7 linked regions of the Homo sapiens genome follow. The protein of the gene in region 1 interacts with the protein of each later gene in a pairwise test. Each region holds a gene or a part of one and is shown in the gene's direction. Other genes may lie near its edges.

Region 1 (2,601 bases):
CTGGAAGTGCTGCATATGCCCCTGTGCCCAGTGGTTGATGATACCACCACCACCTGCCTACCCATGGGCCCAAGTTTCTGTGGCTCATTACAGGGCATCTGACCCCTGCCACCCAGCATAGACACACCTCACAGCTGCCCTGCCATGCAGAGCCCTGGCCGCTGGAGACTCTTAAAGCCCCCACAGCCCTCCAGGTCCTCCAGCTCTGTCAGATGGAGGGCTCTCGGGCCTAGATCCCACTGGTAGGCCTCGTGGCTGGCAGCAGTGCTCTGGGAATAAACAGCTGCCCTAGCCCCAGAGGGATCCCTGCACCCAGGAGGCCTCCTGACACCAGCCAAAATCCTGACAGCAGGGTCTGCCCTCTTGAGTGTGGGGAGCCCCTAGTCCTTTAAGGTTGGCTGCTAAGGCCTGTGCTCCAAAGCAACGGGCTGGGGCAGCCTGCAGCTGCCCACCCAACCTGGTCTTCACACCAGATTGCACAGGATACTGGGTCTTGTCTATCTTGATGGAGAAGAGGGGTTCCTGCCCAGGATCTTACAACACAGCAAGTAGCATAGAGCTCTTTCCTTCCTCTTTTTTGGGGAGGTTGGGGTCAGGGGTTGTTTCTTTGAGATTTAAGTTTTCATTTTTGAGGGGTAATCACCTTCAAGTAAAACAGTAATAGCAAGAGTGAAGGTACTTTGGAACCACTAACACCTCTGCACAGGGCAGTTAGCCAGCTCAAGTTCTTTTTCAGAGAAAGGGACTTGGCCAGTGGTTTAAGTACCTGCCCCTTCACCTCTCAGACGAGGCAGCTGACGAGGCAGCTGGCCCAGTCTTGGGAGTCTGCTCAGGACAGTGGTGGAGCTGGGTCTTGAACCCCAGTCTGCACCTAAAAAACTAAAGGAAATGGATTTTTTTTTTTTTTTTTGAGACGGAGACTCACTCTGTTGCCCAGACTGGAGTGCAGTGGCACGATCTTGGCTTACTACAACCTCCGCCTCCTGGGTTCAAGCGATCCTCCTGCCTCAGCCCCCCACTAGCTGGGACTACAGGCACATGCCACCATGCCCGGCTAATTTTTTTGTATTTTTAGTAGAGACCAGGCTTCGCCATGTTGGCCAGGCTGGTCTCGAACCCCTGAGCTCAGGTGATCCACCTGCCTCGGCCTCCCAAAGTGGGAAATGGGTCATTTTCAAAGGGGCAACAGTGATACCATCCCTGCACTCCTGGGTCCTGCTCTTCCAATGCCCAAGGCATGGCATGGTGGCAGCTGTGCCCCCGCCCATTGCTTTGGAGCACAGATGACTCTGGGGGCAGAGGTGGGCTCTGTTTAGGAGGGCAGTGAGACCACCCAGCCAAATTGCTTCTCAACCCTAGACAAAGCCTTTGGCCAAGAGGGAGGTGCTGTTAGTTGGGCAGCCCTTCTGGGTTTCAGAGACCGGTGTTGGCTCTAGACTGGTCTCATCTCCATTGCCTTAATGCCAGGTGGCCCAGGAGTACCCATGCACAGCAGCTGTGGGGTGTGGGCATCTTCAGGTGGTGTTCTGGTAAAATTGTTAGAATAGCTGTATGAAGGAAACCAGTGGGAGGAAATGAAGTTTTCAGGATGGTGGGATGTGATTTAGACAGTGCACATGCTGTTAGGGCTGTCACTAGGGAGTGGCCTTCATGGAGGGTGGTAACAGCACCTCAGTCCAGCCAAAATGTTTAGAAACACTCAGTCTCTGGTCCCAGAGGATGGCTTCTCAGGGCATGCCACAAGTTAAAGGTCACCTTCCTGAAAGATGAATGAGAAAGCTGCCCATTCTCAAGACTCATCTGCCTAGGGAGGGTCACAGAGGCAGGATGTAAGACACACTGTGTTGCATTCTTGCACAAGTCATGAAAATGGAGCCAGAGAGCCTGGACATCAGGGACTTTTGCCCACAGCACATGACACCGACAGCTGCCCAGCCTGTTCACATGCTGGGGACCAGCACAGCACCTGAAGCCATGTGGGACAGTTGGGCTTTGTTCATTCTAGCCACGGGGATGAAAGGGATCTTTTGCATTGCAGAGATTTTATATATATTTTGTTTGTAATGAGCCATTCTCAATAAACATTATTCTCACTGCAAAATGGTGGTAGCCCCTGGCTGGCCTTTATGAAGCTGTGTTGATCTGCAGAATTCCTGTCCCTTCTCAAGTTCTCAGCATGAGCACATGGGAACCCAGGTCCTTGTCTTGCCATACCCAGTTTAGCTGGGACTGGAATCCTGTTTTCTGTTTTCTAGGGCCATATCCATCCCGTTCAGGCCTGGATGCTTGTGCCTGTCCTGGACAGGCAGTACTAGAGGTAGAAGGGCCTCGGGGCTCAGCTCAAGTGAACTGCAACAAATGCAACTACAGGAGACACAACAGAATGAGGGAGATGTTGAAGCAGGAGAGACGAAAGTGGGTGGGATGGTGAGTGCTGGGTGGAGCTGGCTGCTCAGAGCATGCAGAGTTGGGGTTGAGGTAGACAGACCAAGAGTGCAGTAGTGCGATCTCGGCTCACTCCAACCTCCACCTCCTGGGTTGAAGCAATTCTCCTGCCTCAGTCTCCTGAGTAGCTGGGATTACAGGCACACACGACCACGC
Region 2 (3,005 bases), on another chromosome or scaffold:
TGTAGGTAGGTGTAATTTAAAATAGGTGGTTGAGGATATTCTCACCAAGAAAATGAAATTTGAGGAAAAGATATAAAGGAGGTAAGTGAGTATGAGCTATGCAGATCTAGAGCAAAATTATTCTAGGAAATACAAATGCAAAGGCCCTAGTATTTAAGGCAAGGAGGCCAGTAGTGTTGAGGTCAATCATCGAGAGGAAGAGGAAAAGGGAAGAAATCAGAGAGGTAATGGAGGTCCCATAAGCCATTGTGGTTACTCTGCATTTTACTCTGGGTGGGCTGTTAAGAGTTTGAGCAGAGGAATACCATGATTTGGTTTAGGTTTTAAAACAGTCACTCTGTTTGGCATTTTAACGACAGATTGAGGCTGGGCGCGGTGGCTCACGCCTGTAATCCCAGCACTTTGGGAGACCAAGGCAGGTGGATCACGAGGTCAGGAGATCAAGACTATCCTGGCTAACACGGTGAAACCCCATCTCTACTAAAAATACAAAAAATTAGCCGGGCTTGGTGGCAGGCGCCTGTAGTCCCAGCTACTCGGGAGGCTGAGGCAGGAGAATGGCGTGAACCTGGGAGGTGGAGCTTGCAGTGAGCTGAGATTGCGCCACTGCACTCCAGCCTGTCCAGCCTGGGCGACAGAGCGAGACTCCGTCTCAAAAAAAAAAAAAAAAAAACAACCGGTTTGTGGGCCAGCCGCAGTGGCTCACGCCTGTAATCCCAACACTTTGGGAGGCTGAGGTGAGTGGATCACTTGAGATCAGGAGTTCGAGACCAGCCTGGCCAACACGATGAAACCCTGTCTCTATTAAAAATACAAAAATCAGCCGGGCGTGGCGGTGCATGCACTCCAGCCTGGGTGACAAAGCAAAACTCCATCTCAAAAAAAAAAAAAACAGATTGTAGGGGTAGATAGATAGTGGGGCTATGGGTAGAAATAGTTTTAAGGCTATTCAGGTAATTATGTGAGAGATGATAGTGATTGCAGCAGAGTGACAGAGTTAAAGATGAAGAGTAGTGGTTCAATTTTGGATATCTTTTGAAATTACAGCCAAAAAAGTTTGCTAATAGATTTGTTATAGGGTGTGAGGGGGGAATGTCTCCAAGGTTTTGGGCCTAATTAATTGGAATGAAAGATTTATGATTTACTGAGGTGAAGAAGATAGTGGGAGGAACAGGTTTTAGAGTAGGCGTTGGGGAGGAAGGTCAGGCAGTCAGTTGCGGACATGTAAAATTTGAAATGCCTTTTTGTCTAATTGACGGTACAGAGTAAGCAGTTATAAGCAACACGTGGAGTTCCATGGAGAGTGGTCCAACCTACATTTCAAATTTTTGAAGTCTTTATATAGAAATGGCATTTAGAGTCTGGACTGGAAGAGATTCCTAAAGGAATTGAATAGTTAGACAAGCATTGTGAGGACTGGACCAAGAACACTAACCTTTAGCAACTGGGAGATGAGTTAGGTGTTGGCAAAAAAGACTGAGAGAGGTGGTCAAAGAAGTAGGAGGAAAACTTGGAAAATGAGGCATCTTTGGAGGCAAACGAATAAACTTTCAAGGAGGAGGGGCAATGAAGTTGTCACTGAGGACCTGACAAAACAGGCTTAATGGAATAATAAGGCAAAAACCTGATAGTGGAATCAGGAGAGAATGGGAGACGAGGAATTGCAGATAGCTTTTTGGAGGATATTTCTGTTGACGGTCACTCTGTCACTCTGCTCCAATCGCTATCATCTCTCACATGAATTACCTGAATAGCCTTAAAACTATTTCTACCCATAGCCCCACTATCTATTTACCCCTACAATCTGGGTTTTTTTTTTTTTTTTGAGATGGAGTGGTGACTGGAAGAGGAGAGAAATAAATTGTTTTGTTTTTTAAGATGGAAGAAATTACATCACATTTGCTGCATGATTGTGAGAGTAATCCAAGTAAATTTAGGGAAGCATTTATGAGGAAAAATAATGAGAAAATTGTTAGAACAATGTCCTTTAATAGTACATAGGTGGAAGGGTTGGCCTTAGGAAGTTTTAATGGGAAAGGAGAGAATCTAGGGACATAGGTACAGGAAAGAGTGGATACAGTGGGAACTTGTGAAAGTTCTCTTCTAATTGCTTCTGTTTTCGCAGTAATATAGGAACAAGGTTTTCAGCTTCAAAGAGCTTGGAGAATGTTAGAAGTGTCTAAAAGAAGGGGAGCATGAATGATGTAGAAATGGGTATAGTGGGATCCAGGAACCACTAAGGCCTACTTGAAGTTAATGATCATTAATAAAGTGAGATTAGTCAGTTTTATAAAGCCATTTTGTTATGGTGATTGGATAATTATTGTTTAATATCAATGTGAAGACTTTATAGCCTGCATTATCTTTTTAAAAAAATGTTTCTAGATAACATAGATCTTTGGAGTTACTCATGATAATCAAAAGTTAGTATTAATATTAAATCTGCAAATGACAAGGGTCCACTAGTTTCCTTCTTTTTTCTCCTACACATAAGTGGTTTTTAAGGTTTTATTCAAATGCTATATAAATTCTTATTCTGCTTTTTTCACCCAATATTTTATCGTATGTATTTTTTCATCCAAATTCTCTTATTTTACTTTTACCATATTTTACCCTTCAGAATGTTTCCATTGGAATTGTTGGTAAAGACTTGGAGTTTACAATCTATGATGATGATGATGTGTCTCCATTCCTGGAAGGTCTTGAAGAAAGACCACAGAGAAAGGCACAGGTATATAATCATAACACAAGAGGCTTTAGTTCTATTGTAAGCTGCTGTTCTTACCACAACTGTGTCTGTAAATTTTCCATTTTGTCTTAAATATTGAAATGGGCCCATAATTCAAATGGCAACAGGAAAATTAAGAACTGAGTAAAGTTAAATATTGAAAGGGCAGTGATCTCCATAAACACAAAAAGGGGGCCGGGTGCGGTGGCTCATGCCTGTAATCCCAGCACTTTGGGAGGCCGAGGCGGGTGAATCACGAGGTCAACAGATGGAGACC
Region 3 (3,500 bases), on another chromosome or scaffold:
AGGGCTTCCCCAAGGGCGCCCGGGGCGGAGCCGCTTCAAGTTGCCACCAGACAGCAACGGGGTCACCCTCCATTTGCGTAGTGCTTTGAGTATCGTTCTCGTGGTTGGAGGTCTCCAAGCCCGGCCCGGGGCCAGAGTCCGGGCGAGGTACCGTGGGGGGAAGGGCTGGGGGTGTCGGTCGCGGGCTAAGAGCTGCCCAGGTTTCATCCCCAGGCCCCGGCCCCGGCCTCCAGTCCCCTCAGGCGCCCTTCGCGAGCATCTTCCTCCCGCGCGCGAAGGTGGGGGGGCTGGGGCGCCGGCGCGGGCGAAGGGGCCGGGGTCGCGGCTGGTGCGTTGCCGGGGGCTGCGATTGGTCCGCCCAGGCGGAGCGCTGGGGTTTGCCGGGCGGTGCGGCGAGGAGGGGAGGGGTCCGCGCGGGGGCGGAGCCGCCGGGGATTGGCCGGGAGGGCGCGGGGCGGGGCGCGCGGGGTCGGGGGCGCGGGGGCCGCAGCGCGCGGGCCGGGCAGATGTTTGGGTTCCGCCGCCGGGGTCCGAGCGGATCCGCGCGACCCGCTGCCACCGCGGGGGCCAGAGCGGGAGCAGGAGCGGGGCCGGAGCAGGCGCCGGCCGGCGGGATGGGGCGTTCCGGGGCGGCGGGTGCGGGGCGCTGAGCGGCGGCCCCGGCACACCCGGGCGCGATGCGCCGCTCCAGCACGGACGAGTCCACGTACCGGCGCAGCCCCTCTCCGGAGGGCAAGGAGCCGGACTTCGCGCGCGGCGGCCCCTTCCGGCGCTACAGCAGCCTATACGGGCGCGCGGGCGGCGGGGACGCCGGGGGCTCCTTCTTCGGCCTGCACGCGAACCCCGGCCCCAAGGCGGCCCAGGCGCGCTACACGTCGCCCAAGGGCAACAAGTACGTGGTTTTCTACCTGGACCTCTCCTTCATCTTCCTCCTAGAACTGAAGCGCTGCGGCATGGCGCGCGCCTGCCTCCAGGCCGTCAAGTACCTCATGTTCGCCTTCAACCTGCTCTTCTGGGTGAGTCCGGGGGCCGGGGTGGGGGCCCGGGAAAGACCCGGGGTCCCTCCCGCGGCGGGTCGCGGGGTCTGGGGAGTCGGAGTCGCTGCCCCGGCCAGGCGTTGGGTGCGGTTGTGGGGATGGTCCCGGGAGGACCCAAGACCGCTGCTCCGGCTAGGAGCCTGGACTGGGCGGGTGGGGAAGGTTTGCACCATCGCGGGGTCCGCCCCCTGCACTCAGAGCGGCTGCCCCACGCCCTGGTCCCCTCTCCTCTCCTCTCCTCTCCTCACTTGATGAGACGGGACACGTTGCACACGTGCGCGCCGGACAGGGCCACCCGGGCACTGCGCCTCTCCTAGGGTCGGGGTTCGAGTCCGGGTCGTGGCCAGTTTTGCGCGGGGCCCCGGTGCCTCCTCTGCGCCCGCTCCCTCCTCGGTGCAGCCGTTATCCTTGCCTCGGCCCCGCCCCTCCAGGCAGGCGACCTGTCGGGCCCAGGGACTCACTTCCGAGGGTTTGAGCCGGCTGCCGCCAAGGTCCCCCAGTCGCCGGGAGGCGCTGCGGAAGGGAATCCTGGACACTGAGCAGGGCCGTGGGCCATCAGTGTTCGCGGGAGACACTGGCTTTCCCGCGCCTCCGGCAGCAGAGGCTTCCCTAACTTTTGCGGAGGTGGGGTCAGGTGTGCTCAGACCTGCAGTGGTGTCCGGGGGGGCCCTGTGTGCTGGATGGAGCAGAGCTGAGGTAGAGGGCGGACAGGGTTCCACCCCACCCCAGCCCCATGTCAGCAAGAGGTGGGGCAGGATTCCCACCTGGCCAGGTTGGAGCAAGCCTCATGGAGCCGCGACCCTGTCCTGTCCCTGGCTCCTGTGGAGGGCAGCTGCAGTTGGGGGTGGCCGAGGATGACCTGGACCGGGCCTGGGGCTTTGCTGGCTGGGCTGGGGGAGGTGAAGTGATACCAAGGTCATTCTGTGCCCTATTCTTAATTCCTGAACCAGCTCCTGCAGCTGGGAGTCGGGGGTGTGGCCTCAGCTCCTGCCTAGGCTCTGGGCTTCAGAAGGAGGCTGTCCATCTGCATAAGGTCCAGCTGGGCCAAGTGCCCAGAAGCCTGGGTCTGCCTTCCCACCTCTCCCCTCCTGAGCCCAGGCTCCTTCTCTAGCCAGCTTGGGGTGGAGGCAGGGGGGTCCCTGGGAGGGACAGCCAGCCTGGGTTGCCTGCTGAGTGTGACCCAAGGAGGCTCTTGGCCCAGACATCCACCTCCAGAAGGGGTCACCCAAGGGTTTGTTTTCTGCAAGAGGCTCTGGAGGGGTGAGGCCCAGGCCTGAGGGGCGCCTTGGAGGTAGGGGTGGTGGGAGGTGTGGGTGTGGTCTGGAGCTGGTGGGTGTGGGGGGTGGGCTGCAGGTGGCTGAGTGACCAGAGTGTTTCTGTGACGGGGGGACGGGGCAGAATGACTGAAGGGCAGTGGGTGTGGGGGCCCGGCAGGCAGGCAGGCAGGTCCTGGGAGGGGAAGCCCTCTCTCCTCTCCACCCTCCTCCTGTCCTCCGTGGCCTGGACACCTGCCTTCAGGGAGAAAGAAGAGGGTCCTTTCCCAGGGGGGGTCTCTCTGCTCTGAGAGCAGCCCGCCCTCATGGAGGACCCCCAGGTGGACCTCTCTTTGCTCTGTGAACCCCAGAGAAGCCTCCATTCCTACCGCATGGCAGACACACTCCCCCATCCTCAACCTGGGAAAGAACACACAAGGAACCCCCTTGGGACCCTATTCTGGGCTGGAAAATGCAATTCTCTCTTTTTTATCTTTGTTTTTTGAGATAGAGTCTTGCTCTGTCGCCTGGAGTGCAGTGGCGTGATCTTGGCTCACTGCAACCTTCCATCTCTGGGGTTCAAGCGATTCTCATGCCTCAGCTTCCCGAATTGCTGGGATTACAGGCGCGCATCACCACGCCTGTCTAATTTTTGTATTTTTAGTAGAGACAGGGTTTCACCATGTTGGTCAGGTTGGTCTCGAACTCCTGACCTCGTGATCCGCCTGCCTCGACCTCCCAAAGTGCTGGGATTACAGGCGGCCCCAATTATTTTTTATTAATCAATCACCACCTTCCCGCCAGTCCAGCAAACTGGAGCCCCGCTGGCTTCATACACCAGCCTTGGCCCCCCCCAACCCTGGGCTGGTGCCCAGTGGGGGTCTAAGGGTGGGGGCGGGGCAGGGGAAATAAGAATGAGTGGGGGTTTTGCCAGGAGAGTCTGTCCCGGGCTGATGTCCACGCCTGCTGTGCCCTGAGTCACTGTGAGCTAAGCCCTCTCCTCCTGGCGTGAGGCTATTTCAGGAGTCAGGCCTAGCGCTCCCCTTCCCCAGGGCTCCTTTCCTTTTGGGGGTGCCAGCCCCCTGTTGTCGGGGCTTTTGCCGCCCACTCCATTTCCTACTCGTTGGGAGACCAGGGGATACAACCTGGCCTCCTCCTCCTCCTCCTCCGTCTTCTCAGGGGCGAAGTTCAGGGGTTAAGGTGGTGGGAG
Region 4 (2,579 bases), on another chromosome or scaffold:
CCCACTAGGGTGCAGCCTCCAGACGCAGCCCCCTCACTCCCACAGCTCAACTTCATCCTCTTCATCAATATCGTCCGGGTGCTCGCCACCAAGCTGCGGGAGACCAACGCCGGCCGGTGTGACACACGGCAGCAGTACCGGTGAGCCCACCATGCCTGCCATGCCCTGGCTCCTCAGGGGTCCCTGAGTCCTGGTACCATGTACCCCAGGAAAGACAGTGGCCCCATGAATGATCCTGGGGCAAGGGAAAGGACCCAGCGTCTGACTCCCTGGCTGTCCTCACCCACCTGGCCTGCCCAGCAGTGATGGGAGGCCCTAGGGCACCCCAAAGCCAGCCTGCCCACTTGTACCAGGCCCTGCACTAGAGCTGGAGTCTGTGAGTGTGCAACGAACTTGAACCTCTCCTCAAAGAGTTGGTTGCAGGGGGTCTGAGGAACAGGTAGGCGGTGAGTGGCCCCGGGAAGGCTGCAGCTCAGCTGAAACCTGAGGAGCGGACTGTGGGATAGTGAGGTTCGACCGTGGAGGGGAGTGCTTGCCAGCTGAGGGCTCCACAGGTGCGAAGGGCCCAGGGACAGGGGGACTGTCATTTGAAGTCCGCTCCGGGACACCGCTGAGAACCAACGGGCCCTATTAGCACTTAGCCAGGACAGCAGCCATGCAGGTGAACTGGGTTGTCCTCCCATGGTGACTGGAGCCCTGGGCCCCTTTGAGCTTCCGGAGCCTGGGGCTCGCAGGGTGGGGGGTGGCACAATGCTTGTTGAAGGGGAAGTGGCTTGGCCCTGACCTACCTGCCCCGCTGGCCCAGGAAGCTGCTCAAATCCACGCTGGTGCTCATGCCCCTCTTTGGCGTCCACTACATTGTCTTCATGGCCACACCATACACCGAGGTCTCAGGGACGCTCTGGCAAGTCCAGATGCACTATGAGATGCTCTTCAACTCCTTCCAGGTGCGCAGTGCTGGCCCGGGCCTGGCTGAGGGTGGGAGGGGTTCCGGGGGCAGGCCTGATTCGAGACACCCCTCTTCACAGGGATTTTTTGTCGCAATCATATACTGTTTCTGCAATGGCGAGGTAAGCAGGAGACAGTGTTGGCATAGGGCAGGGTGGGGCAGATACCCCAGAGGCTTCCTCAAGGCTCATTTCTCCATTCTTCCACCCTGTTATTTCTTTGTTCCTCCAAGAACACCCCTGAGGACATTCTGAAAGCAGAGAAGTCTTTCCAGATGATGCAGGTTCAGGATGTGCTAGGATGTGGGGACTCTTCAGTCACTGGCATAGCCAAGTGTCTTCCCAGCCCCATGGTTCAATTATCTGTGACCCAGATTGGAGGACTCAGCCACCTTTGGGGCAATTTGAGCCTTGTAGATTCTGGGTGTGTCGGCTGCCTGTAGCCAAACACCCTGTTGTGAGGATGGGATTTCACTTGGCCTTGGAGTTTCCCAGGAGTCCCCTATTCCCATTTTCATTCCGTGCTGGGTGTCCAGGGGCCGGGATGGGGCATCGCTGGGGTTGGGAGACACACCTGACTGCCGCACCCTTACTGCCCCAAGGTACAAGCTGAGATCAAGAAATCTTGGAGCCGCTGGACACTGGCACTGGACTTCAAGCGAAAGGCACGCAGCGGGAGCAGCAGCTATAGCTACGGCCCCATGGTGTCCCACACAAGTGTGACCAATGTCGGCCCCCGTGTGGGACTCGGCCTGCCCCTCAGCCCCCGCCTACTGCCCACTGCCACCACCAACGGCCACCCTCAGCTGCCTGGCCATGCCAAGCCAGGGACCCCAGCCCTGGAGACCCTCGAGACCACACCACCTGCCATGGCTGCTCCCAAGGACGATGGGTTCCTCAACGGCTCCTGCTCAGGCCTGGACGAGGAGGCCTCTGGGCCTGAGCGGCCACCTGCCCTGCTACAGGAAGAGTGGGAGACAGTCATGTGACCAGGCGCTGGGGGCTGGACCTGCTGACATAGTGGATGGACAGATGGACCAAAAGATGGGTGGTTGAATGATTTCCCACTCAGGGCTGGGGCCAAGAGGAAAAACAGGGAAAAAAAGAAAAAAAAAAGAAAAAGGAAAAGGAAGCGGTGTGTGGCTTCCTGTGGCCCAAACTGGGGACTCACTCCGAGAGGGTGGGGCTGGGAGCCAGGGAAAGCTGTGGCGGGAGGGCCATGAGTCATGGAGGAATCCTCAGGTCTCACTTCAGAATGGGGAGGGATCTGGGGCCTGTGGTATCCAGCAGAAAGGGCCCAGAGTGGCTCAAGTCTGCAGGGGTCACACAGCAGCCAAGTGGACCCATGTGGAAATCCAGCCTCAGCCTCCGTTGCTGCCAGCTGTGGAGCTGCTCTCCACACTTGTACCTAGACCCCATGGGGGACCCAGGCTCCTCTGGGCCAACTCTTCTGACTGCTGCCCCCATCACTGCCACCCAGGGCTGCTGGCAGATCCCTCGGGTCCCTGGCCACACCCCCAAGCCTACGGCCCTGCCACAGAATGGACCTTTCCTGGCTGTCCAGTGGCCACTCAGGGAGCCCTCCACGCAGGAGCCTTAGCATCCACCCGTGACCTGACATGCCTCTGTGAC
Region 5 (3,500 bases), on another chromosome or scaffold:
TCAGGCTGTAGTGAGAAGGTGAGGAGGTACTACTGGTGGTGTTGGAGTGCACTAATGTTCTTTACTTTGCTGCAATCTCACCAGGGAATCACTTCCTTTGTGCCTCAGTGGCACAGGTCCATGGTACTAACACACAACAATCCTAATACCCCGTGTGCTTGTTTCTTATATGTCTGTCTCTCTCAACTCAATCGAAGTCAGTACCCATCTTCAGTGTCTGGAACAGTGCCTGGCACATAGTAGGCACTGCATAGATGTTAGAATGAATGAGAGGTTATTTGCCCTATTGCCATATAAAGCTGTTATATATACATCCGTAATATGGCATTTCTCATTATCTGGGACTGGATAATCTCAGGTAACTGGATCTTGGTTAGATGCTTAGGACATTCTTGTATATCCATAGTTCAATAATTCACATTTATAACGATGATCCTAAGTGATGAAGAAATGGCTAAATAATCAGTATATCATGTTTAATGTGGTGAAGGGGGTAATATTGTTTAGAAAAATTTCCATCCAAAATTTAAAAATATATTTAATACGGCAGATCCTTGGCTGTGTGGAAGACTTTATTTTCCAAATGTTACTACAGTTCTATTATGTCTTCATTTCATTTTTCATTTCCCTCTAAGAAGCTTGAAGTACTTCACATACTGCTTTTTTTTAGAAGATAACCTTGGTAGGTTATTAAGCTTCATTTGCAAATTGGGAAATAGACAGGAGTGATTGGTGTCATTTCTATTAATAACCAGTTCGGTGATGGAAGTTAAGATTGTAGTTTGATTCCCATTCAGTGTTTTTCTCACTGTTTCATGTTAACTTCAAGTGTTTTAAACACTTCTGAAGTTTGGAGACTTTTTATGGCAAAATACAATTTAAAAAATGTCAACTATAGAGCTGCTTTGCCTTCGCTGTCCTTAGAAACTTTTGGGGAACCATTTTGTTCCCCAAAGGTGAAACTGCTTAGGGTGAGATCTTTTTAGCAGTACTCTTGAGATAGCAAGGTTACTGTTTGTGACCTCTTCTTTTGGTTTATGTGGCAATTGGAGGAGACTGTCAAGGGAATGGCTAGAAGCAGTTTAAGTTCTCTGTTAGGAACATGACAAAGTGTGAACCAGTTGAAAAGTGGGAGAAATCTGAATTTTAGTACCTAAACTCTATGGGATGAGGCCCAGGTTAGACTCATATTAAATATTGTTTTATAAGAAGGTTCCAATGTATTAAAGTAGGTAAGTACCTTATACTTAAGTCATCTTTCCTGGAGTGAATATGGTAAGGTCTATATGTTCATAACATTTTATTTTCAAGTAATTGTAAATTTACATAAAAATTACAGAAATAGTACACAGAGAGCCAATATACTCTTTAGCAGATTCCCTCATTTTTTAACACTCTGAAACATTTAAGGATAAGATGCAGACATGATACTTCATTAACTGCCCTTAATACTTTGGTCTGTATATTGTAAGTACAAGGACGCTTTCCCGTAGAATCACAGTACAGCCATCAAAATCAGGAAATTAAAATTGATCCAGTATTACCATTTAATCCACAGGCCCCATTCAAATTTTGCTGATTATCTTATTATGTCTTTCATACATCCAAAATCATGTGCTACATGTAGTTATATCTCTCTAGTCTTCTCCAATCTGGAACAATTCCTCACATCTTATCTTTCATGAGCTTGATATTTTTTGAAGAGAATAGGCCAGTTACTTTGTAGAAATCTCCTTTGATTTGGGTTTTTAATATTTTCTCTTGACATGCATTTTTGGCAGGAATATCACAGAAGGGACACTCAGCTTTTCTCTCCATATCATATCAGGCAGCACATGACATTGATTTGTCCTATTATTATGATGTTAACCTCTTACTACGTGGTTGAAAAGGTGACTTCCAGATTTTTTTTTTGTAAATTTAATTAAGAATGTTAATTATAAGCAAGAAGTGCATACTTACTTCGTGGGGAGATACTTCAGTACTATGTAAGTATTCTTTTTCCATCAAACTTTTACCCCTTTAACATTTTCAGGCATTTATTGATGATTTTTATCTGAATCAGTTAATACTATGATAGTTATCAAATGGTGATTTTTAAAAATTCCATCATGTCTTCTAAATTTAGTAGTAGGCATTGTATTGGTTGTCAAGCTTTTCCTTCTCTTCCTATTTATTAATTTTTATTGGTACAAGCTCATAGAGTCCTGTTTCAAATTGTTACTATTATTTATTTATTTATTTATTTATTTATTTTAGAGACAGGATCTCCTGTTACCCAGACTAGAGTGCAGTGGCATGATCATAGCTCACTGTAACCTTGAACTCCTGGGCTCAAGTAATCCTCCCACCTCAGCTTCCTAAGTAGCTAGGACCACAGGCCCATGCCACCATGCCCAGCTAATTTTTTTATTTTTTAAGTTTTTTGTAAAGACAGTGTCTCACTGTGTTGTCCAGGCTGGTCTTGAACTCCTGACCTCAAGCCATCCTCCCTGCTCTGCCTCCCACAGTGCTAGATTATAGGCATGAGCCACCATGCTGGGCCCTGTCATTATTTTTTGATCCTGAAATTGCTGTGGACTTGGCCAGTGAGAACTCTGTCAAGCCAGTTTCTGTGTTCTTTTGAGAAGTTTCCTCCATCCTTTAAACATTTCTTTACTTTTTGCTCAAGAAAATGTTTCAGACTTATCTTGTATTTTCCCTGCCCTAGGAATGGAGTCAGTTATTCCTTCCAGGAGCCTGTGTTAGTCTGTTTTGCATTGTTATAAAGGAATATCTGAGACTTGGTAATTTGTAAAGAAAAGAGGTTTCTTTGACTCATGGTTCTGCAGGCTGTGCAAGAAGCATGGCACCAGTATCTGCTCAGCTTCTGGCAAGGCCTCAGGAAGCTTTTACTTGTGGCAGAAGACGAAGGGGAGCAGGTGTATCACATGGCAAGAGAGGAAGCAAAAGAGAGAAGGGAGGAGGTGCCAGGCTCTTTTAAGCAACCAGCTGTAGCGTGAACTAATACACTCACTTATCCCCAAGGGGATGGCACCAAACCATTCATGAGGGATCCACCCCTGTGACCCAAATACCTCCCACTAGGCCCCACCTCCAACATTGTGGGGGTCACATTTCAACATGAGATTTGGAGGAGACAAATATCCAGATATCAGAGCCCTAGTTTCTTTCAGTGGAGAATGGTTTCAGAAACCAAGATCTGGGTGCTAGGTGTGTTCACCAATACCGGGAATGTGGGGTGGGGGCTGGGGGCATTATTACTTCTAGGCTCTTTCAGCAGGTGCTGCAAGGAAACGTATGTGTGCACACAGTCCTACATGAATTTCTATGTCTTATCTCTGCCTTTCTGTATATCTGTCTATATGTCTTAAAAACCATACATTCACCCCAATATTTGCTTGAACTATTTTAACTTGATTTATTCTTTTGAAGCTCATTTGAATTCTTACTAAAACAAAAGTGATTCTGAAACAGTTAAAATTATAAGTACTACATAA
Region 6 (3,122 bases), on another chromosome or scaffold:
TGCCTGTAATCCCAGCACTTTGGGAACCCAAGGCAAGAGGATAGCTTGAGCCCAGGAGTTTGAGACCAGCCTGCGCAGCATATTGAGACCCCATCTCTATTTAAAAATTCTAGTCCAGGCAGGGTGTGGTGGTTCATGCCTGTAATCCCAGCACTTTGGGAGGCTGAGGCAGGGAGATCATGAGGTCAGGAGTTCGAGACCATCCTGACTAACACAGTGAAACCCCGTCTCTACTAAAAATACAAAAAATTAGCCGGGCGTGGTAGCAGGTGCCTGTAGTCCCAGCTACTCGGGAGGCTGAGGGAGGAGAATCACTTGAACCCGGGAGGTGGAGGTTGCAGTGAGCCGAGATTGCGCCACTGTACCCCAGCCTGGGCGACAGAGCGAGACTCTGTCTCAAAAAAAAAAAAAAAATTCCAGTCCAGCTGCTTGACCCAGACCTGCCTGTGAAACTGCTATCTGGCCCCAGTATGAGTGAGGGCGCTAATAGTAAAATACTAATAGCTACCATTTTCTGAGTATTTATTATCTGCCAGGTGCTTTACAAGTATCATCACATTTAAGCCTGACAACAAACTTAGGAGGTAGGAAGTGGTAGTATCTCATTTAATTAGATGGGAAAACAGGCTTAGGGATTTGCCCAAGATCACTCAGCCAGTAAGTGCAGGAGCCAGGATTCAAACCTTACAGCTTGAGCTGCTCCATACACCATAGCCAGTTACGCAGTCATTCTGAGCTCCAGGAGGTTCACTGGGAGGTGCCTTGTGAGGGGAGATTGTTGGAGGTGCAGGGTTGTGAGCCATCTGTAGAGGAGCAGTCTCCCCCAAACCCCGCCCCACTGCCGGTCAGGAAGGAATACAAGGCTGGCTCCCTTCAGTCCCCGCAGTCCCCAGCCTTGCCAGGGAAAAGGGCAGGGAGAGGGGTATGGGCAGAGACAGGTGGGCCTTGTTGGTGCCCTTTACTCTGTCCTCACCAGAGCCCAGCTGGATAGACTAGGGCATTGGGGGATTCTGGGAAGGAAATAGAAGCCATGCCCATACCCTATTTGGGTTGCCCTGGTTTCGGAGTGCTGACTGTCTCTCAGGGGGTGGACCCAAGTCTAGCCTGGGCCTGAGAAGGTGGCAGCCGCAGTGGGCCAAGCCAAGAAGGAAGGAAGAGGCCCAGGCACCCCCTGTGGACGCATTCCACCTGTGTGGCCCCCTGCTGCCCCGTGGCTGACAGCCCAGGCAATCCTCAGATGTTGGGCCAGAGGAAACCTGGGCCTGAGTGGCAGGAAGGGGGCTGAGAAAGAGGAGTATCTTCTCTACACCATAGCCCCCAGCCCAGGAGTTCCAGCTCTAAAGACCCTGGCCCCTGGTGGCCTCATGCCCTGGCCTGGAGCGCAAGCTGGCTGTTCTCCCATTGCGCAGAGGCTTGATGTATGGAGAGTCAGGCCTCCAAGCTGGGGGCATCTGCTGGTGCCTGGAGTCTGAACTTCAAGCCAGAGCAGCGCTTGTTGTCAAGAATTTCGCACTGGGGGTGGATGAGAAAAGGAGGACTTCTCCTTCAGCTTGAGCCAGGGCAGGCCCTGGCGACTGCCAGCACTGGAGCCTTGTGGGAGAGTGGGTTGGTGGATTCCTTTGTGTGTCCCTGTAACTTCCCCGGGCTCATCCACAGCTGTGAGAACATCTCCTTCCTATGGGTCCTGGTGGTTCCTCTCCACTACCCCAGGATCCCAGCCCTTAGAGAGCAGCCTTCATGATGGAGGAGAGCAGGGGTGGGAGCTCTGACTTTGGGGCTAGAGACTGGAATCCGGGGCAGCAGAAAGGTCTGGGAACCCCACTTCCCTACCGCTCCACTCCCTAGGCTCCTGTTCCAGAGGCAGCTGTGTGGATGACCTCATCCCACAAACATGCTTTGTTCCTGAGAAAATGGAAAGTGTCTGAGGTTTGGTCGGGGGCTGGGTGTCTCCAGCAGCAGCTCTCAGGGCTCCCCCTTGTCCTACTCCCCACCCAAGATGGGGCCTGATTGGGGAGAAAATGTCTTCAGTGGCTCTTGCTCTCTCTCCTTTCAGCTCCCTAGTCCCAAACCCTGAGAAATCGGAAAAGGTGGGAGAGACCTTCTCTCCCAGAGGCAGTAGGAGGGAAATCATGACCCCAGGGGATGGAAAGATCCTGGGGTTTTGCCAGATGTTAGCAGGAGGTGGCAGGGGGTACACTGCACTCCCAGTCTGTCTCCAGTTCCCCTCTGCCTCCCCCGACACTTCATTTTCCTTTTTTCTCCCCATTGCTGGCAAAACCTGACATCTGGCCATCTGTGCCGCCACAGCTGCTGCAGATGTTACAGGCCAAGGCTGTCCAAGCTGGTGTGACACAGCGGGGGTGGGGGGATGAGGGCAGAGGGTCTAGCTAGGGAAGACTGGCTGTGTCCAGCTTGCAGGATTTCCTTCCTGCTTGAACCTAAGCTGAGCCTCTGAAGTTCCCATTGCTTGGCTGATTCCCCGGGAGGGAAGGCCCAACCTCTCACACTGGCCTCTTCTACCATTCATTAGTCCAGCACCTCTCTAGCATTCCACTGTTTTCTGGATCAGGAGGGGCAGGCACAGCCCATTCCCGTCTCTAAGTTCTGTACTCCAGAGCTCTGGTTAAGGGTTCCTTTATCCATATTCCTAAAGTCCCTTCCTGGGAGTCAGGAGAGGGTGGGAGTACTGCTCATAAGGAGTAGAGTGGGGTGGCTCCCTGCCCCTGCTTCTCCCACGCTGGGGACAGTCGGGACAGTGGAGGCTAGACGCTGGCTGGGACAGGAAATGAGTCACTGACCCAGGAAAAGCCCCCTCCCCCTAGATCTGCTAGGGCCTAGATAAGAAAACAACTTCTGCTTCCTGGTTTTTTTCCTGACCTCTTCCTACCCCGAGTTAAATACAGAAAGAAACATGTGGGATTCCTGGTTTCCCAGAAGCACCCCTTCCCCATCCCCACCTACTCTGAACTGGCATTTCCTATGCCGGGTCTCTTGGCTGTGTTTTGAATGCAGAGGCCTCTTTGCCAGGAGCCAAGCCACAGCCTCTCTGTGTGACCCCAGTTCCACCTTGTGCTCCTAACAGGGTTCTCTCCCCTTGCCACCATGAGCGAGTCATTTGACTG
Region 7 (2,542 bases), on another chromosome or scaffold:
GGTGTGCAGGGAAAGGAAGAGTGTTGGTTGTAATACACATACTGGGGTTAAGTAAGATGCTAAACCTCTCCTCCATTATTCTTCACAGAAATTTCTCCTTCCCTGGAACTTGGCAGTCTTTTTGTCTATACTTGTTTGGCATTGTTTATATAGACTATTTTGTTTTGTGAATTGTCATCGCTTTTACCTCCTGCTTTGTTATTTAGGTTAAAGAAAATATCTCATTCTTCTTGGTTTCCCAATTTTTACTGCAGTGCTTGACATATTATGGGTGGTTTTCCTTTACATCTGTTGATGATGGTAATGGGCTGCTAGATCGTTTGAAAAATCCTTCCAGGCCTCTATGCCAGGAGTTATATTGTGGAATTCTGAATGCTTACTGGTTGCTACTAGTGATTCTTGGTCATCTTTCTCCGATGTGCCTCAGAAGGTCTAGCTCTGGATTGATTCAGAGGAAACTAATTATGACAGGCTCTTGGTCCAAGAGACCTCTTATAAGTAGCAATCCAGTAGGTTGGTCATGGAGTACATGATTTCTGGCCAAACTTCATTTAGGCAGGTATTAAAATATACACATTGGGGAGGCTATGCCTTACCCTACTGCATGGGGGTACTTGACACACACTTTCAGTATTTGGATTGAGCATATCTTACCAATGGTATAAACAGGATAAAAACAATCTTGCTTTTCATTTAAAATCATAGCTAGAAGAGATAAGTTTCGTAATTTTCTCTTTTTTTGCCTGTGAATTATAGGGGTATGCAAAATTTGATATTTGGACCAGAAAAATGTTGAGGGTAATTGCAGTTTATGAGACAGAAACATGCCTCCACTGACACAATATAGTGATCAAAAATTTGCTCATGTCTTCTTTCAGGGCAATCATGACTCATGCATCAGTTCTTAAGAATGACAGAGATGTCCTTGGAATTAGTGACACACTGATTCGACTTTCTGTGGGCTTAGAGGATGAGGAAGACCTACTGGAAGATCTAGATCAAGCTTTGAAGGCAGCAGTAAGTCTTATTATTGTGTGTGTGTGTGTGTGTGTGTGTGTGTCTGCTTTATCTTGGGCATGGGGGGTCACTATATTTACAAAGTGTGGTCTCACTGTGAACTCTAAAGCTTTTCTGTTCCTGTAATAGACCAGGTGTATAAATAAACGTATAGGGAGCTCAGTCAAAGTGCATATTTAAAGGATGGTAGTATTCAGAAAAAGGACTTCTTGAGGAGTTGAAGCTATGGCCTATATGTTTAATAACATATTTTTCTTGTGCACTGTTATTATAGCACCCTCCAAGTGGAAGTCACAGCTAGTATTCCAGAGCTGCTATTAGAAGCTGCTTCCTGTGAAGATCAAATCTTCCTGAGTAATTAAATGGACCAACAATGAGCCTTTGCAAAATTTTCAAGCGGAAATTTTAAGGCACCTCATTATCTTTCATAACTGTAATTTTCTTAGGGATCATCTCTGTTAAAAAGTTTTCTGTATGTCATGTTATAATTACAGGTCAATTCTGTTAATATCTTTTTGTTAATTTTGCTCTATGTTTGCCTCTGAAGGAGGTGAGATTTGTGCTACTTTGGGAGATTATGTTCTTTTTTCATGTCTAAGATTTATTTTGATCATGTTTATAATATAATGGTAATTCATTTTTGATGTTTTGTGAAGAATTTAAATTTAAACGAATGTTCTTAAATCAAGTGTGATTTTTTTGCATATCATTGAAAAGAACATTAAAAGCAATGGTTTACACTTAGTTACCATAAGCCGAAAATCAAATACTTGAAAAGTTTACTGTGAAATTCTACTGATTTAAGACTATACTTAATATTTTTAAAAAAATAAATCAGCTGGGCGCGGTGGCTCACGCATGTAATGCCAGCACTTTTGGAGGATAAGGCGGGCGGATCACGAGGTCAGGAGATTGAGACCATCCTGGCTAGCGCAGTGAAACCCCCATCTCTACTAAAAATGCAAAAAAAATTAGACGGACGTGGTGGCGGGTGCCTGTAGTCCCAGCTACTTGGGAGGCTGAGGCAGGAGAATGGCGTGAAACCAGGAGGAGGAGCTTGCAGTGAGCCGAGATCGTGCCACTGCACTCCAGCCTGGGTGACAGAGCGAGACTCCGTCTCAAAAAAAAAAAAAATCTAATTATCAAATGCATCCCATTGTGATATTCCTACATTATGTGACATTAACCTATATTCCTGGGTCCTTTTAATTCCCAACTACTGCTCTTAGAGGTCTTAGCCTTTTATGTTAATTTTTATAAATTCAATTAAATAAATATTATTCCCAAATCTTAGTGTTTGCAGATTAGTTATAAATCCTATCCAAGGTAGGTTAAAGGCCACCGTTTTACAGATAAATAGTACTTTTTATATTTTTATCTGAAATAGTGCATTTGTTGAGAATAAAAGAAGGTATGTTTAAAAATAGAATCTTTTGGGCCTGGTGGTACGTCCTTGTAGTCCTAGCTACTTGGACAGCTGAGGTGGAGGATCTCCTTGAGCCTAGGAGTTCCAGACTGCACTGGC

Evidence for each region.
Region 2: the proteins of GUCD1 (region 1) and PSMA1 interact in binary tests that used the Homo sapiens proteins (3 or more experiments, as listed by UniProt).
Region 3: the proteins of GUCD1 (region 1) and TSPAN4 interact in binary tests that used the Homo sapiens proteins (3 or more experiments, as listed by UniProt).
Region 4: the proteins of GUCD1 (region 1) and PTH1R interact in binary tests that used the Homo sapiens proteins (3 or more experiments, as listed by UniProt).
Region 5: the proteins of GUCD1 (region 1) and NDUFAF6 interact in binary tests that used the Homo sapiens proteins (3 or more experiments, as listed by UniProt).
Region 6: the proteins of GUCD1 (region 1) and FHL3 interact in binary tests that used the Homo sapiens proteins (3 or more experiments, as listed by UniProt).
Region 7: the proteins of GUCD1 (region 1) and CTH interact in binary tests that used the Homo sapiens proteins (3 or more experiments, as listed by UniProt).

Annotation. Positions count from the first base shown.
Region 1 is NC_000022.11:24,539,938-24,542,538, reverse strand, and holds the end of GUCD1 (protein GUCD1), read left to right. Parts: 3' UTR 1-2,101; downstream 2,102-2,601.
Region 2 is NC_000011.10:14,507,382-14,510,386, reverse strand, and holds part of PSMA1 (proteasome subunit alpha type-1), read left to right. Parts: intron 1-2,620; coding exon 2,621-2,731; intron 2,732-3,005. UniProt on the Homo sapiens protein: Component of the 20S core proteasome complex involved in the proteolytic degradation of most intracellular proteins. This complex plays numerous essential roles within the cell by associating with different regulatory particles.
Region 3 is NC_000011.10:849,352-852,851, forward strand, and holds part of TSPAN4 (tetraspanin-4), read left to right. Parts: intron 1-504; exon of another isoform or gene 505-677; coding exon of another isoform or gene 678-953; coding exon 954-1,016; intron 1,017-3,500. UniProt on the Homo sapiens protein: Structural component of specialized membrane microdomains known as tetraspanin-enriched microdomains (TERMs), which act as platforms for receptor clustering and signaling.
Region 4 is NC_000003.12:46,901,721-46,904,299, forward strand, and holds the end of PTH1R (parathyroid hormone/parathyroid hormone-related peptide receptor precursor), read left to right. Parts: intron 1-45; coding exon 46-140; intron 141-805; coding exon 806-947; intron 948-1,028; coding exon 1,029-1,070; intron 1,071-1,549; coding exon 1,550-1,936; 3' UTR 1,937-2,079; downstream 2,080-2,579.
Region 5 is NC_000008.11:95,027,989-95,031,488, forward strand, and holds part of NDUFAF6 (NADH dehydrogenase (ubiquinone) complex I, assembly factor 6 isoform 1 precursor), read left to right. Parts: intron 1-3,500. UniProt on the Homo sapiens protein: Involved in the assembly of mitochondrial NADH:ubiquinone oxidoreductase complex (complex I) at early stages. May play a role in the biogenesis of complex I subunit MT-ND1.
Region 6 is NC_000001.11:37,999,393-38,002,514, reverse strand, and holds part of FHL3 (four and a half LIM domains protein 3), read left to right. Parts: intron 1-3,082; 5' UTR 3,083-3,102; coding exon 3,103-3,122. UniProt on the Homo sapiens protein: Recruited by SOX15 to FOXK1 promoters where it acts as a transcriptional coactivator of FOXK1.
Region 7 is NC_000001.11:70,437,810-70,440,351, forward strand, and holds the end of CTH (cystathionine gamma-lyase), read left to right. Parts: intron 1-878; coding exon 879-1,017; intron 1,018-1,291; coding exon 1,292-1,318; 3' UTR 1,319-2,042; downstream 2,043-2,542. UniProt on the Homo sapiens protein: Catalyzes the last step in the trans-sulfuration pathway from L-methionine to L-cysteine in a pyridoxal-5'-phosphate (PLP)-dependent manner, which consists on cleaving the L,L-cystathionine molecule into L-cysteine, ammonia and 2-oxobutanoate.